Linked DNA regions of Homo sapiens: region 1 is linked to region 2. Evidence: fine-mapped expression QTL. A gene starts in region 2. The other region holds a variant in brackets. All regions are shown on one strand. Distances are from middle to middle.

Region 1 (8,423 bases), 24 kb after region 2:
CAAGCACCACCACACCTGGGTAATTTTTAAATTTTTTGTAAAGATGGGGTCTTGCTGTGTTGCCTTGGCTGGTCTCAAACTCTTGGCCTCAAGCGATCCTCCCACCTCACCCCCAAAGTGGTTTTTTTTTTAATGAGACTTTTAAAACATATTCAAAGTGGAGAGAAGAGTACCATGAACTCTCACACCCCACCTTGATTCAACAGCACATTCAATTTATGAAGTACACTATGAACTCTAGTGAGTGCAGACAGGTCACAGTGGGAGAGGATGAAGTTGTGGAATTCACGGTGGACCTGGAAGCAATTTCTCATCTTCTAGTCCAGTATCCCCACCCCGCAATTCATATGGAATTGGAAACCACGAGATGTAAAGCATCTTGATGAAATGCATACAATTATTTAATAGAACTGGGGCTCAAGATGAGGATCAGCTCTTCTTTCTGACTTCCTTCCCTACCCACATGACCCAAACTTGGCCAACAAACCTTTGTTAGAGGATGTGAATGGGGGACATGGCAGATTTTGCTAGTGCAGATGAATGGGCAGCTTCCTGGGTAGGTGTGCAGGTCTGGTAATTATTCAGGTAAATGTCTCAATTCTCCCCTTCTCAGCATTAAAGATATAGTCAAGGGGTTAGAAAACAGGTTAAAATGGCAACTAAATACCAAAGCAACTTCATTCTACCAATAGACAGAGAACAAACCATCTGTTAGTTGGGTGGTGATGGGTGTCAACTTTGGGAAATCCACATTCCTTAAGCATGAAGTCAGACTTTCATAAGCTACCCTCTTGGAATTTCTTGTTTCAGTGCTGGCCATCGAGCTCCTTGCAGCCTGCCAGGGCATAGAGTTTCTACGTCCCCTGAAAACAACCACTCCGCTGGAGAAGGTCTATGACCTGGTGCGCTCTGTTGTAAGGTAAGATCAAACAGGTCTCTGAAAATTACATCAGTTCAGCACTGTGAACCCTGGCAGGGTTTCATGTTTGGCTGATGGGCGGATGTGCTCTCCCTGTAGGCCCTGGATAAAAGATCGCTTCATGGCCCCGGACATCGAGGCAGCCCACAGGCTGCTCCTGGAGCAGAAGGCAAGCTGGCTCCTTGGCTTGTTTCTTAATTTTTAATTGTTACAGGAAAGCAAAGTCGGGGATGGAGAAACATTGCCTTATTCTATTGTTTTCTGGCCATTCCTTGGGAATGAGCAAAAAGGTATTTGAGCAACAACTTGCAGCACCACTAAGAAGCCATATAATAAACACTAAGTGCACCAGGGTGCAGCCAACGGTTGAATATCTAAGGATTAGAAACAGAAATGGATTTTAAATGGAGTTTTGGGACAATATTCATGGGGAAAAAAATAAGATGTCAGGTTCATTGATGCCTCCCCACCCCTGCAAGATGTCCTCTTTGATTCAAAAGTGCGTTCCCTTCTGGGTGATGCTATCACAACTACCACCACTGGGTGCAATGGCTGCGTAGACCTGGAGAGAAAACCAAGGCCCGGGTGTTTACTTCAGAAGACTTTCGGTCTGTCTAGTGCTCTGGTGAGATGCGGGTTTTTCTTTCTTGCATATTTCCACTGGTTACATTGACCGTATACTCAGCTGCCAGGTACAGATGCCCAGCATGCTGGCTTATCTTTTAAATATCGTTTTTGAAGTGCTTTAAACCTTTTGAATAACTTGTGGGTGTTATGTTCCCTAGAATCGCTTGATTTCCTTAAAACAGTTGCTCTGCTCTGGGGCAGTGATTTTTCCCTGTGATTTTCACACCCATTATTTCTAAGCATGCCCTGCACTCTGGATGGGGAAGCTGCTTGCCTGCTGCCAACTTTGGTGCTAGGAGGGAGGTATACGAGAGGTTAGCCTTTAAGAGTATTCATTTGCTAAGGTCATAAAAAATAATAGGAAAGGCTCCTTGGCTGTCAGTGGCAATCAGTTAAAAAGCAGATATAAACCAAAAACAGGGCCTTAATTTCATTCAATTTAAAAAAAAATTTTTTTAGAGATGCGGGTCTTGCTATGTTGCCAAGGCTGGACTCAAACTCCTGGGCTCAAGTGATCCTCCCACTTTGGCTTCTTGAGTAGCTGGGACTACAGGCACATGCCACCATGCCCGTCCAGGGCCTTACTTTGAGATGATGTTATGCTTAAGAAAAAAAAAAAAAAAGAAAAAAGAGGTTGGTGGGTGGGAGGCAAAAGCTAACCAAGGATCTGAGGCAGTGCCTCTCCAACATTAAAGTGGCTATGAATCTGCTGGGCATCTTGTTAAAATGCAGGTGTGGATTCAGTAGGTCTGGGTGAAGGCCAAGATTCTGACTTGTCCCAGGTGATGCTGATACTGCAGGGGCACAGGCCACGCTTTGAGTAGCAGGGTCAAAGGAACAGAGCACCTGTGGCATGGAAATAAGGCAATAGGGAAATACAATTCACTGCCTTTTACCATTTAAGGCTTGCTTTAGAAAACACACAGGTCCAGGCCATGTGTGGTGGCTCACGCCTGTAATCCCAGCACTTTGGGAAGCTGTGGTGGGTGGATCACTTGAGGCCAGAAATTCGAGACCAGCCTGGCCAACATGGTGAAACCCCATCTCTGCTAAAAATACAAAAATTAGCTGGGCCTGGTGGCATGCACCTGTAATCCCAGCTACTCAGGAGGCTGAGGCACAAGAATTGCTTGAACCTGGAAGGTGGAGGTTGCAGTGAGCTGAGATCATGCTACTGCACTCCAGCCTGGGCGACAGAGTGAGACTCTGTCTCACAAAAAAAGAAAAAAAACAAAAAAACAAGAAAAAAACCACATAGGTACTGTTAAGACCCTGGAGCAACTATCCTTCACTCTATCCACACTGAATTCTCTGGGTTTTGTTATTTGCTTGCTTGTTTTGCTTAGGAAAAGTATGCAGCTTAAAATCTTTATGATGACTTTAGAAAGTTTTGGACTTTGTATATTTACAGTCTTTAATGCAACCAAAGACTAATTGACACAGGTCATGTGTCAAATGGCTTAAAATAAAAGCAAGCAAACAGCAGCTGTGTCTGGTCATGTATAGAGTATGTTTTGACTTCGGATGAAGTTGATGTTTAATAGCATGTGGAAACAATGTCGTCAATATTTCAACTTTGTTTTGTCCTTGCTTTTCAGGTTTGGGAAGTAGCTGCTCCATACATTGAAAAATACAGAATGGAGCATATTCCAGAATCAAGACCTCTTTCTCCAACAGCCTTTTCACTGCAATTTCTGCACAAGAAATCCACCAAAATCCCGGAGTCTGAGGACCTTTAATGGGCTTTGTCATGAAGTAGCAGATGAGAGGGCAGTCAGTTTAGCACAAAGCAATACTAGGCTGAAGGAGAGACCTGAGAACTTTCCTAGGTAGATCAATCCATTGTATCATTCAGTTCTTCTAAAGCCTACGTTGGTTAGGCTGATGGCAGTATTATAGTTGCTAAATTCAGCACTGTGTTCCTGTTGTCGTGGTTCAAGACCCACCAGGTATTTTCAGATTATAAAACTTTTCTTTCTTTCTTAACAGTTTCAACAGGCCACTCACTCTTAAGGGTGAGAAGAATAACCACAATTGTATGTGCCTGTTTTTTACTCTTAGCATTAGATGAATTCAAATTTGGAAACAGATTGATAGCAATTTTTTCTAAAAACATTAGACTTTTGTTAACCTTTTTTTTTTTTTTT[A/TTTTA]AATTTGCTTCAACAAGCTCTCCACCAGTTGACTTTCTTTGGCTAATTTTACTTTGCATGATATGCCTTAATATGCCTTCATAAATAACCATTTTAAGTCATAATTTGTCCTTAAGCTGCTTTTTTCTTCTATTAATTGGATCATAGTAAAGAGTAGTCAATAGGGTCTTCAGCTATTAATTGTAGAGGTGATTAAAACCAACAAGGAGTTTCATGTGCAAAGGAGATAAGGAATGAATATAAAGATTGCTATTTGGGTGGCTCTTATTAAACTGTGTATTTTGTACTTATCACTACACGTATCCCCCAAATGCTTACATGGGAGTTTGAGGTTAGTATTTTCACTTCCTTGGTGTTAGTACTCTATTCACATTCTTATTGTAACCTTCCTCATTTCACAGATAAGGAATCTTTGGGGATTAACCAACCTCCTTTCTGTAATGGTAATCATTAAAATAAGTCCTATTGATAAAGGTCAGATGGAGCCCTAGAGTGTATTACTGCATCTATTTTTTTCCCCGAGAAGATAAAGGACCTTCAGGGATGGCTTAAGTGTATCTGTCCAGATGAAGGATGGGTCACATGACCTCTTGGCTTCCCAAGTCTAAGCTCTGTGACTTTGCACCAGTGTGTGCATATATGTGCAAGGCCCTTCAAGTGGTCTGAAACCGTGGCTCTAAAAACCACAGCTGGTGGAGAGGAGGACAGACACACTTGCCACCTTGCCTACCTAATTGCCATCTAAAATGGGCCGAACAGTGGATTTCACAATAGAGTTTTCACCCTTTAGATTTACAACCTGTCAGGTGGAAACTGAAGTGAAAACTGCTGCACACAGCAATTCAGGGAGCAAAAAATGTGCTGAGGAGACTGTTTACCTAAAGGTTGTTCTTGGTGCTATTCCTTGTCAAAATGTGAACACACACAAATGAGGTTTGTGCATTGTCATCCGTGGGCTGCCATTGAGCCAGTAACCCCCAGTGGTCTCATGGTGCTCTTCGCTCCAGTTTGGGGAATGCTGGATTCTTTCAGCCCCTGCAGCCCTCCAGGTCAAAATGACACTTTGTCACTGAGTTTTCTACACAGCTCTATTAGTAACTGACAGCACACGCCTTCAAGGGAACTTCAAGGGAAACATGGAATAAACTAAGTCTCAATTGCCTTATGGTGTCGCTTTATTCTTAGGTATTTATAGCAAAGTTAAGCGCCTCTAACAGCAGTTAATCAAGCTTCTGAAGGATTCAGTTGACAGATGTCAACCGTTTTAAGAACAATATGCTTGACTCAGTACACTCTTTTTCCCATTGGCTAGCAACAAAAGAGTTGGAGGTATCAGGATTTCCTCCCCAGCCCCGCAGGCTCACCTGGTCTTTGTCACAAGTTGTCTCAGGGCAGCTGGAGGAGGCAAACCCTAAAGAACAAGGGCTTTTCAAGTCCCTGTTGTGCCACGTTCGCTAATGTCCTGTTGGCTAAAGCGAGTCACGTTCCAGGCCCAGAGTCAATTTGGGAGGGTAACACTCAAGGGCATGGGCATGTGATTTGACGTGATCCATGGGCCTGTATCTGACAATCTACCACATGCATAAAATCCCATCACAGGCTGGGTGCAGTGGCTCATGCCTGTAATCCCAGCACTTTGGGAGGCCAAGGTGAGTGGATCACGAGGTCAGGATTTCAAAACCACCCTGGCCAAGATGGTGAAACCCTGTCTCTACTAAAATTACAAAAATTAGCCAGGCACCGTGGCAGGTGCCTGTAATCCCAGCTACTCGGGAGGCTGAAGCAGGAGAATTGCTTGATCCTGGGTGGCAGAGGTTGCAGCGAGCCAAGATCGTGCCACTGCACTCCAGCCTGGGTGACAGAGTGAGACTCCATCTCAAAAAAAAAGAAAGAAAGAAAAAAAAGAAAAGAAAAAGAAAAAAAAGTCATTACAACCGGCAAAATTCAAAAGCAGATACATTTCATACTGCTTTAAACCTGTGTCTGATTTTTGGGTCTGGTCACTGGATTGCTTTTTATTAAACTTTATGGTTCTCTTTATGGTTCATTTTGCTTTTTTTTTTTTTTTTTTTTGAGATGGAGTCTCGGCTCTGTCACCCAGGCTGTAGTGCAATAATGCTACCTTAGCTCACTGCAAACCTCTGCCTCTTGCGTTCAAGCAATTCTCCTGCCTCAGCCTACCGAGTAGCTGGAATTACGGGTATGCGCCATCACACCCGGCTAATTTTTGTATTTTTAGTAGAGATGGGGTTTCACCATGTTGGTCAGGCTGGTCTTGAACTCCTGACCTCCAGGGATCCACATATCTTGGCCTCCCAAAGTGCTGGGATAACAGGCGTGAGCCACTGCTCCCAACTCATTTTGCCTTTTTGCTTACTTTTGTTGAGAGTATTAATTTATTAAATGTAAACATTGTAAATGTAAATGTAAATGTAAAAAATAGTTGGAGAACATTAGTTTCAGCCCAGAGGGTAGACTTCATTAGTCTAACATACAAAAGACAGTTAAATTACAATGCTACAAAGGCTATCATAGAGATGTGGGAATGTGGGGAAGGGCGTCCAGCTCCAGTTTCCCATGTAAGGAAGAGAAGGAAAGCATTCTGGGCAGAGGGAACCGTATTGCATGGCCCTGAGCAGCTCACTGTCCCCTAAGGAACAGTGTGAAGATTGGTGTGATTAGGGCTTAGAACTCAGAGCTGCTCAGACCTTAATGTGCATGTGAATCACCCGGGGCTTATTAGCATGCAGATTCGGACTCAGCAGGTCTGGGTCCAGCCAGAGGTTCTGCATTCCTAGCAAACTCCGTCAGTTGCACGGGCTTGCAGCACGCTGGCCTGGGAGGACTAGGGCAGTTTGGGTAGATGTCTTTTTCTGTCTTCTTTCAAAAAAGGCATGAATGCTATTTGTTTAAAGTGAGTGCCTCCTAGATGAAAAATCAGATGTGCTTCTCCTTCTTGTTTCTTCAATAGAAGAATCTAATCTTGTGTTGCTTGAGTTCCAGGGAAGACTCGACCTAACATTCCGTTTTGGCTTTTATGTGTATCTCCTGCGCCCCAAATGTTCAGTGCCTAGGTGACTGGTCACAGGGGAGCCATCACACACAGCAACTGTGTGCCCCCTACACTGTCTCAAGACTTCTTAAATAATCGCATGAGGTTCAGAGCTCCAGAGACCCCATTGTGATTGTGTCCGGAATTGGTGGGTTCTTGGTCTCACTGACTTCAAGAATGAAGCCGCGGACCCTCGGGCTGAGTGTTACAGCTCTTAAGATGGTGCGTCTGAAGTTGTTCGTTCCTCCCGGTGGGCTCGTGGTCTTGCTGAGCTCAGGAGTGAAGCTGCAGATCTTCGTGGTGAGTGTTACAGCTCATAAAAGCAGCGTGGACCCAACGAGTGAGCAGTAACAAGATTTATTGCAAAGAGCGAAAGAACAAAGCTTCCACAGTGTGGAAGGGGACCCCAGCGGGTTGCCAATGCTGGCTCGGGCAGCCTGCTTTTATTCTCTTATCTGGCCCCACCCACATCCTGCTGATTGGTAGAGGCTAGTGGCCTGTTTTGTCAGGGCGCTGATTGGTGCGTTTACAATCCCTGAGCTAGATACAAAGGTTCTCCACATCCCCATCAGATTAGTTAGATACAGTTTCCACACCCAGGTTCTCCAAGGCCCCACCAGAGCAGCTAGATACAGAGTGTCGATTGGTGCATTCACAAACCTTGAGCTAAACACAGGGTGCTGATTGGTGTATTTACAAACCTTGAGCTAGATACAGAGTGCCGATTGGTGTATTTACAATCCCTGAGCTAGACATAAAGACTCTCCCTTTGGGAGGCCGAGACGGGCGGATCACGAGGTCAGGAGATCGAGACCACCCTGGCTAACACGGTGAAACCCCGTCTCTACTAAAAATACAAAAATTAGCCGGGCATGGTGGCGCGCGCCTGTAGTCCCAGCTACACGGGAGGCTGAGGCAGGAGAATGGCGTGAACCCGGGAGGCGGAGCTTGCAGTGAGTCGAGATTGCGCCACTGCACTCCAGCCTGGGCGACAGAGCGAAACTCCGTCTCAGAAAAAAAAAAAAAAAAAGACTCTCCACGTCCTCACCAGAGCAGCTAGATACAGAGTGTTGATTGGTGCACTCACAAACCTTGAGCTAAACACAGGGTGCTGATTGGTGTATTTACAATCCCTGAGCTAGATATAAAGACTCTCCAAGTCCCCACCAGACTCAGGAGCCCAGCTGGCTTCACCTAGTGGATCCCGCACCGGGGCTGCAGGTGGAGCTGCCTGCCAGTCCTGCGCCATGGGCTCGCATTCCTCAGCCCTTGGGTGGTCGATGGGACTGGGCGCCGTGGAGCAGGGGTGATGCTCGTCAGGGAGGCTCGGGCCGCACAGGAGCCCATGGAGTGGGTGGGAGGCTCAGGCATGGCGGGCTGCAGGTCCCGAGCCCTGCCCCGTGGGAAGGCAGCTAAGGCCCGGCGAGAAATCGAGCACAGCGCTGGTGGGCCAGCACTGCTGGGGGACTCAGTACACCCTCCGCAGCCACTGGCCCGCGTGCTAAGTCCCTCACTGCCCGGGGCCAGCAGGGCTGGCCGGCTGCTCCGAGTGCGGGGCCTGCTAAGCCCACGCCCACCCGGAACTCCAGGTGGCCCGCAAGCGCCGCACGCAGCCCCTGTTCCCGCTCACGCCTCTCCCTCCACACCTCACTGCAAGCTGAAGGAGTGGGCTCCAGCC
Region 2 (8,000 bases):
ATGCTGGCTGTCACCCCTGCTGACATCCTTTAATTTAATCTTGGGTATTGACTTGTGTTCTTATTCTCTTTCTCCTTCCTTTTTCCTTTCCTCTGAACCCCTTCCCTCCTTTCTTTCTTCTCTCCCTCCCTTTCTCCTCCTCTGTCTCCTTCTCGCCTTTCTTTCTTTTCAATTTTTTCTTTTTTGGCAGGGATCTTGCTGCCTTTGACAAATCCCATGATCAAGCTGTCCGAACCTACCAAGAGCACAAAGCAAGCATGCATCCCGTGACTGCAATGCTGGTGGGGAAAGACTTAAAAGTGGATTAAAGACCTGCGTATTGATGATTTTAGAGATTTCTCTTTTTTAAATGGAATTCGTAAAGAAATATAAAACTTCAGCTCACAATTAAAACTGTCTTTTTAGTTTTGGCTTTTTATTGTTTTGTTGGTGATTTTACTGAAATAAAGTTGAGCTACTTCTTCTTATAGTGGCATATTCTTTGTAAATTTTAACAAGGTTTAATCTTTTGATTTACAAATTAAAAAATTTTGAATTAGCTTTATATTAATTTTCTCTCAGTATGATCACAAAATATGTCAAGGTAGTATTTTACCTGATATATGATTTAAATTCATTAATTTGAATCTGCTGCAGATTCAAAAATTCAACATGGTTAGGATTTTGCTTTGCTTTTTAAATAACCTTAAACATAAGTCCGGGCGCAGTGGTTCATGCCTGTAATCCCAGCACTTTGGGAGGCCAAGGCGGGTGAATCACCTGAGGTCAGGAGTTTGAGACCAGCCTGGCCAACATGGTGAAACCCCGTCTCTACTAAAAATACAAAAATTAGCTGGGCGTGGAGGCACGACTGTAATTCCAGCTACTCAGGAGGCTGAGGGAGGATAAGCACTTTAATCTGGGAGGCAGGGGTTGTAGTGAGCCGAGATGGCGCCATTGCACTCCAGCCTGGGCAATGGAGACTCTGCCTCGAAAAATAAAAAATTAAAAAAAAACCTTAAACATGAATGCTTAGTTGTATTTGCACACCACCTACCTGGTGGACAGCAGATGAACTCCTTACCAGAATGTGTCAACCCTAGCAGGAGCTCTCAACTCCCTCCTCCTGGACCCCTCCGGCTCATCCAGTGGGCTTGTCCTGGTCTCCTGTCCATCAGGGGTCAGATGGCCACCCCAAGCACCAGTCTTTCCCATCCCTCTCACAGTCTGTTCAAAGACAACAAAATAACTTGAACCAAATAAAAGACAAACATAACAAAGCACCCCTGCCAATGCAACGTAGTGCCCCAGGGCATCTCAGCACACATAGCTGTACTAGGTAGAATTATTAGTGTATTAGCTCTATTAGTTAGAATTAATTAGAACCATAGCTGTGTTAGAATTCTTTGATTGCAAGTAACAGCAATCCAAGTGACCAGAAGTCAAAAAGGGAAAAGGAAGATTATTTTAAGGATGCTAGGTATGGGGAGATTATCAGAACCTGGGACGGACAGAAGGGGTCTGATGCCCAGGACTGCAGCACCGTCAGTGCTCCTGTCCCTCACCTCTGCCTCTCTAGTCCACGTTGTACAGGCCGGCCACTCTCCAGCTTTACTGTTACAAATAGCTCTGACCACATGGGGAGGCTATCACAATTCCAAATTCCCAGAGGTGAGACTCTAACCCAGGTTGGGTCCACCTCTGGTCAAATAAATTGTGTAAGAGGAATGGTGTCTTAGAGTATAATTGTTGGCATGGGGTGGGGGTGGGGAGCGGTGTCCTGACCAAATAACCCCTCAAAGTGCTAATGCAGTGACTAAAGTTACAATAGGAGTGAACACCCAAGGTGGGACAGGTATGGAAGAGACATATTCCTGCCTATTCCCGGAATCCTGACTTTTCCCTGGCTCTCACTCTCCCTAGCAGTTTTTGTTTTGTTTTGTTTTGAGACAGGGTCTCACTCTGTCGCCCAGGCTGGAGTGCAGTGGCATGACCATAGCTCACTGCAGCATCAGCCTCTGGGTTCAAGCCATCCTCCCACCTCAGCCTCTGGAGTAGCTGAGACTACAGGCATGCACCACCATGTCTGGCTAATTTTTGTTTTGTAGAGAAAGAGTTTGGCCATGTTGCCCAGGCTGGTCTCGAACTCCTGGGCTCAAGCAATCCACCCGCCTCGTTCTGTCCTCTTGGTCACTTATCTATGCTGCAGTGTGATTCTTTCTCCAGGCTCTGCTCTCCCTTGCCTTCCTTGCCAAGAATACAGAGAAGGGAGTTCAGCTCAAATCACTGGCATAAGATCATGTTCTAAGATTAGACTTTAGCAAATCCATTTACCCAAATACTGCTCTTTAAGGCTTCTGCCCTATGAGCTTACAAGACAAGCTGTAAGTTAATGTCGTTTTTAGTTATCACTTAGTGATACTGAAAGTGAATTGTGACAAGGGATGCTTGAAGGGTGGCATGGAAGGGTGCTGTGAAGAAGGTAGAGGGCGCTAAAGACAAACTTAATCCTGCTTGCTGGTTTACCTAGGGGCCAGCTCGGTGCAGTTCACATTTCTTCAGTTCAGCTAGTAAGCATATGCTAAATGTCTTTGTGCCAGATCGGATATATACATAATTATGGATGAACACAGACAAGTAATTTCCTAGATAATACTAAAGAAGAGCTATGCTAAGGCATCCCAGAGAAGGGCCACTTAACCCAACTGAAGAATTTAGGGAATGCTTCCTGGAGAAGAAAAGGCCTAAACAGGCTTAAGGAGTAAGAAAGATCTAGACAGGCAAAGGAAGTTGGAAAGTGCGTTTCTGGAGAAAGAATAACAAGGAAGACTCTGCTCCACAATGCGTAGGGCCTGAGTTTAGAATCCTCAAACTGCTGGGGGTGACTTACATGGCTGGGAGGTGGTATCACCTGGAAGCTCCTTCCCTCACTAGTCTGATGCCTGGGCTGAAATTACTCAGAAGCTGGTCTCGGCAGTGACAGTCAACTGGAGCATGCAGTAGTTTGGGTTGTTTTGCAGCATGAAGATAGTTAGACCTCTTATTAGTCATCTTTATACAGCTTTATCCATCACCAGACAGTAAGCCTCATGAATGTAGAGCGTGTTTGTTATTTATTTCATCCCCAGCACCTCGCATAGAGCTTGTTACATAACAGGTGTTGAAAAAATATTTGTTAAATGAGTCAAGGAATGAATGGGGGGGGGTGGGGCAGAAGGTTAAGGTGGTTCACATGTGCAGTCCTCAGTTTTCTCACAGATGTAGGAAGTAAGGTCTCCTTCTGAGAATTAGAGGTGGATGTCGAGAAGGTCCTGGCAGAGGGGTCAAAGTTTTGGAAAGTCACTGTGGGCTGGATGGAATAAAAGGGCAATACCATCAAACTATGTGATCACAGGACTTTCTCTATCAGTGTCTTCTGCCTGGGTGAACAGATATGACAGTTTCTTTTAATTTTAAACAGGGTCTTGCTCTCACCCAGGCTGGAGTACAGTGGTATAATCATAACTCATTGCAGCATTGACTGCCTAGGCTTAAGCAATCCTTCCAAGAGATGGCTGTTTTTTGTGATGACTAAGGGGATGGGTGTTATTCCAAGTGTAGACATAAGTTTAGGGATGCAAAGGAATCTCAGAGTGCTTAAGAAAGAGTGGTCCAGTGAGCGACTAGGGACCAGCTTCCTAGGATAGTAAGTGAGGATGCTGGTGGGAAGTGGAGGGATGAAGAGACTGACTGGAGGTCAGGTCCAAGGCTGGCAGTGACTAGAGTAAAAGGGCAGCTGGAAGGTTGTGGTCAGAAGGTGGAATATTGGAATTTCAGATTTCTTAAGTGTGTCAAATTCAGGTCGTGACAGATTCCAGGGTGATTTCTTAAGTGTGTCAAATTCAGGTCATGACAAATTCCAGGGTGCAGTCATGGTGTGGGTATCTGAAGAGCAAGTTTCAATAAGGCTCAAGGAAGGGTAGCTATTTGTACGCTTCCTGGGAAGCTGTCAGCAGATGAGAGGGACTCTGGGTATGAGTATAGGTGTTTTTCTTGAGCAACCATGTCTCTCTTCCCAACAGAAGTCTGATTTAGTGGAAACAGACTTTTCAGGATTTTTCTAGTGCAATAATCAAATCTCTAAAAATTGGCTTACGATGAAAGTGCTGCTTAGTCAAAATAGCATCTGCATATCTTTGATGCCGTAATCATGCTATCCAGAGTTCCTTAATACCAATGGTAATAAGGCGGGTGCAGGGAGCAGTTATCTGTGGTGAAGAAGCTTAATTGGGTGAGGGATATCCATGTGCCAAGATGAAAGAGCATTTATGGAACTTTATAGCTTTATGATTCATACAGAACATTTATAAAGCATTATAGTTACATGGAGTATTGGTGTCCAGATACTAGTAATCACAGACACTTCTATAATATTTCCACTATGCCAGGTGTTGTGTTGAGGGCTTTACATATATGAACTGACTTCATCCTCCCAATAGCCCTTTGACATATATACTATCATCATTACCATTATCTTCATTTTACAGATGAGGCAACTGAGGCCCAGAGAAGTCAAATCACTTGCCCACAAGTCATACACTTAGCAAATGGCAGAGCCAGGATTTGATCACAGGTAAATCCTGCACATACTGGAAGGAGGCAGTTAGCCCCTAGGCCTTCTGATAAGGAAATACAGGGTAATACTCACCTAATCAAGGCTAATAAGTAGTAGAGCTGGACTCTCATCCACGGCTGTCTGAGCCCCTAATCTCCAAGTCAGAGTGGTTCATTTGCCCAGATGACGACCTTTAGTTGTGAAAATGATCTCTGGCCTTTGCAGTCTTCCCTGGTGGAAAGAAAGCTTCAGAAAACCTTACTGGTGACAGGAAGTAGTTGCTCAATACATGTTTGTGGAATAAACAAATGAGTGACGATTGCCACACTCCCAGTGTCACAGTTGGCCCACAGAACACGTTTTACAGTTGAGTAATCTCAGATAAAGACAGGAACATGGTGTTTATAAGCTGCCCTTAATGGCAGAGAACACAGACAGAAACGAGGGAAGAGAGAGAAATTGGGGACCCTGAAGAAAGGGGGCCAGCAGCAGGTAGGTGCCATCAGGGACAAGAACAGCACCTCCCAGGGTGGGAGACCCCAGGCCTTTCTGGCAGCAGGTCTGGATGGAAAGTGGACAGGAGGCTCACCCGTCTGCATCCCCTGCTCCTGCCCCTGCTCGGCTACAAAAACCAAAGGGACAGCAGGTACCTCAATAAATATTTGTCCAATGCATGAATGAGTAAAGGTGAAGGAGGGGGAGTGGTTTGAAAGTCTATTCTCATCCTTCCAGCTGACCACACCCCGGTAGCCACTCCTGCATAAAGCTCTCCCCTCCTGTGACCAGCTGAGGACCTCAGGCTGCAGCGGAGCCATGCCCAGATACACGGTGCACGTACGTGGGGAATGGCTGGCAGTGCCCTGCCAGGACGCGCAGCTCACTGTGGGCTGGCTGGGCCGGGAGGCCGTGAGGCGCTATATCAAGAATAAGCCCGACAATGGTGGCTTCACCTCCGTGGATGACGCGCACTTCCTTGTGCGCCGGTGCAAGGGCCTGGGCCTGCTGGACAACGAGGACCGGCTCGAGGTGGCCCTAGAGAACAACGAGTTCGTGGAAGTGGGTGAGTGGCTGCAGGAGAGGGCCGCGAACGGGTGCGGTTTGGCCTGGCTTAGTCTTTGCAGCATTGAACCCCCACCTCAGGGAAAATGATGAGCAGAGGTCAGGCTTGCCGAGGCTGGCCCTGTGCAGGCACATGCCACGCCTCTGGGGATCTTAAGTCCTCACACAACCCTGTGAGATGGGTAGGATTCTCCTCCACCTCTGATGGAGGAGAAATCAGAGAGGAGGTAACTTACCCAGACTCCAGCAGCTAGTAAGTAACAAAGACTAGACTGGTACTCAAGGCTGCAGGTCTGAATCCCTTTGCAGTGACTGAATCATTTTGAGGTTATTTTGCCTTTCGAAAGAATCCACCCCCACCCCCAGACTGGAGGCCGGCAGCATAGCATCAGTTCAGATTTTGAAGAAAATAAAGCTGGGAATGGGGATGGAAGTGGAATTCTGTCTTGAACTTTCATCTAAACCCCTGGTCTCTGCCCTGACACCTACCTTTCTGCTTTTTGCTCTCCTCCTACATAAAGATGCTAAGACCACATGAAACCATCTGAAGCAGTTTTAAAGCAGCCATTTCTATAGAATTCATGGGCCAATGATGGGCCGTTCCTTGGTTTAACAGGGGGAACATGGCTGTACAATGTGATCTGTAACGAGTCTCCCGTGCATTGTTTTAGTTATAGAGGGTGATGCCATGTCTCCTGACTTCATTCCATCTCAACCAGAAGGAGTTTATCTGTATCCTTTCCCACAGGCTCTTTGGTCTGCTCTGGGGGTGGCTCCTGCAGATGGTGGGGCTGGGGGTTTTTCCACACCACCCTATATGTTCCTTTACCTGGATACAGATACAGCAAGTACCGGGAGCCTGAAAAGGTAAGCTTCAAACCACTTTCTTTTTCTTCAGAAAATTAAGGCCCCTTATTTAAGAGGGAGGAAAGCCAGGAAAACTTCTGAGAAAACACTGTCAATTAGAACAGGGCTGGCCGGGAGCAGTGACTCATGTCTGTAGTCCCAGCACTTTGGGTGGCCGAGGTGGGCAGTTCACTTGAGGTCATCAGTTTGAAACCAGCCTGGCCAACATGGTGAAACCCCATCTCTACTAAAAGTACAAAAATTAGCCAGGTATGGTGGCGTGCACCTGTAATACCAGCTACTCAGGAGCCTGAGGCACGAGAATTGCTTGAACCCAGGAGGCAGAGGTTGCAGTGAGCCATGTTTGTACCACTGCACTCCAGCCTGGGCTGGAGACTCTGCCTCAAAACAAACAAACCAACCAACCACAGGGCTTTATCCAGCTCTGTAGTGGGGAAAGGGGGCTTGGAAAGGCATTATGCTTTTGCACCAATAAGCCTCCTCTTATGCAAGATGCATTTTTATTTAGCATATTCATGTTTCACGCAATGATCAGATCTCTGAAATGTCAGTTTGGTTCTGTTGGAGGTGTCCCTACTCTGGTTAGAATAATCAAGCTGTTCAGACTCACTGAGATCCCCTTCTTTTGTGTAGTACATCGAGTTAGATGGAGACCGTCTGACCACGGAGGATCTGGTCAACTTGGGAAAGGGACGCTACAAAATAAAGGTATGGGGAGGGAGGGGAAAGATGTCCTCTGGCCATTTTTGTTGCCCGTGGAAGTCTTTAACGTGCTCAGTTCTGATCAACATTTTCCTAGCTCACCCCAACAGCTGAGAAGAGGGTGCAGAAATCCAGGGAGGTCATAGATAGCATCATAAAAGAGAAAACAGGTATCTTTTTATCTTTATGTTATAAATATTTTTATAAACAAACAAAAATCCCTGCATTTAATTGCATAATGTCTCTTTTTATTCTAGTTGTTTACGGTATTACTACAGGTTTTGGGAAATTTGCCAGAACTGTAATTCCTATCAATAAGCTACAGTAAGTTTAAAACACACATATGTTCACGTTCCACCTACCCTCATCTTTTAAATATTTTTCAACAAGGGAAATAATTCACATTTGCCCCAATTTACAGATCAGAGGATGAGGCTTGGGTTACCTTGCATGTGAGTTGGTATTGAAAACCCAGGCTGGCTGGTTTCTCCCATTGCCTTCCTTCTGTCCCTCCAAGGATTTGACCATGATTCCCTTCATTTTCCCAGCTGAGGGAACATTTTCTCACTGCAATGTATCTAAGAGGGTTTTTACCTTTCTGTTGCAGGGAGCTTCAGGTCAACTTAGTACGCTCACATTCTTCAGGTAAGTCAAAACGTTGGGTGCCTCCTGGATCTTGTGTGATTAGATGAATAAAGCACAGCACAGTGTGAGTTATCCAGTTATAGTCACAAAAAGCTAGTTTCTCAAAACAGCATTTCAAGAACTAGGTGCCGAGGTGAGAAGGGATGCAGAAAGA

The links.
Region 1: its variant is fine-mapped to the expression of HAL in whole blood (INTERVAL, PIP above 0.99).

The regions. Positions count from the first base shown.
Region 1 is chr12:95,969,094-95,977,516 of GRCh38, reverse strand. HAL (histidine ammonia-lyase) reads left to right here. Exons shown (of 21, transcript NM_002108.4): 19 at 811-919; 20 at 1,019-1,088; 21 at 3,145-4,855. The coding sequence ends at 3,285. Among named protein-coding and RNA genes, the nearest start is that of HAL, 23 kb to the left of the region's middle. RefSeq lists enhancers at 6,121-6,766, 6,767-7,412. The variant A/TTTTA (reference allele first, on the strand shown) is at 3,694.
Region 2 is chr12:95,993,297-96,001,296 of GRCh38, reverse strand. HAL (histidine ammonia-lyase) reads left to right here and starts at 4,953. Exons shown (of 21, transcript NM_002108.4): 1 at 4,953-5,219; 2 at 5,306-5,633; 3 at 6,304-6,364; 4 at 6,472-6,499; 5 at 7,133-7,207; 6 at 7,299-7,371; 7 at 7,459-7,525; 8 at 7,809-7,846. The coding sequence starts at 5,387. LTA4H (leukotriene A4 hydrolase) reads left to right here. Exons shown (of 19, transcript NM_000895.3): 19 at 191-544. The coding sequence ends at 308. LOC102723340 (a long non-coding RNA gene) reads right to left here and starts at 4,815. Exons shown (of 4, transcript XR_945237.4): 1 at 4,667-4,815; 2 at 2,870-2,966; 3 at 1,037-1,206. RefSeq lists enhancers at 2,546-2,605, 3,052-3,346, 4,571-4,740.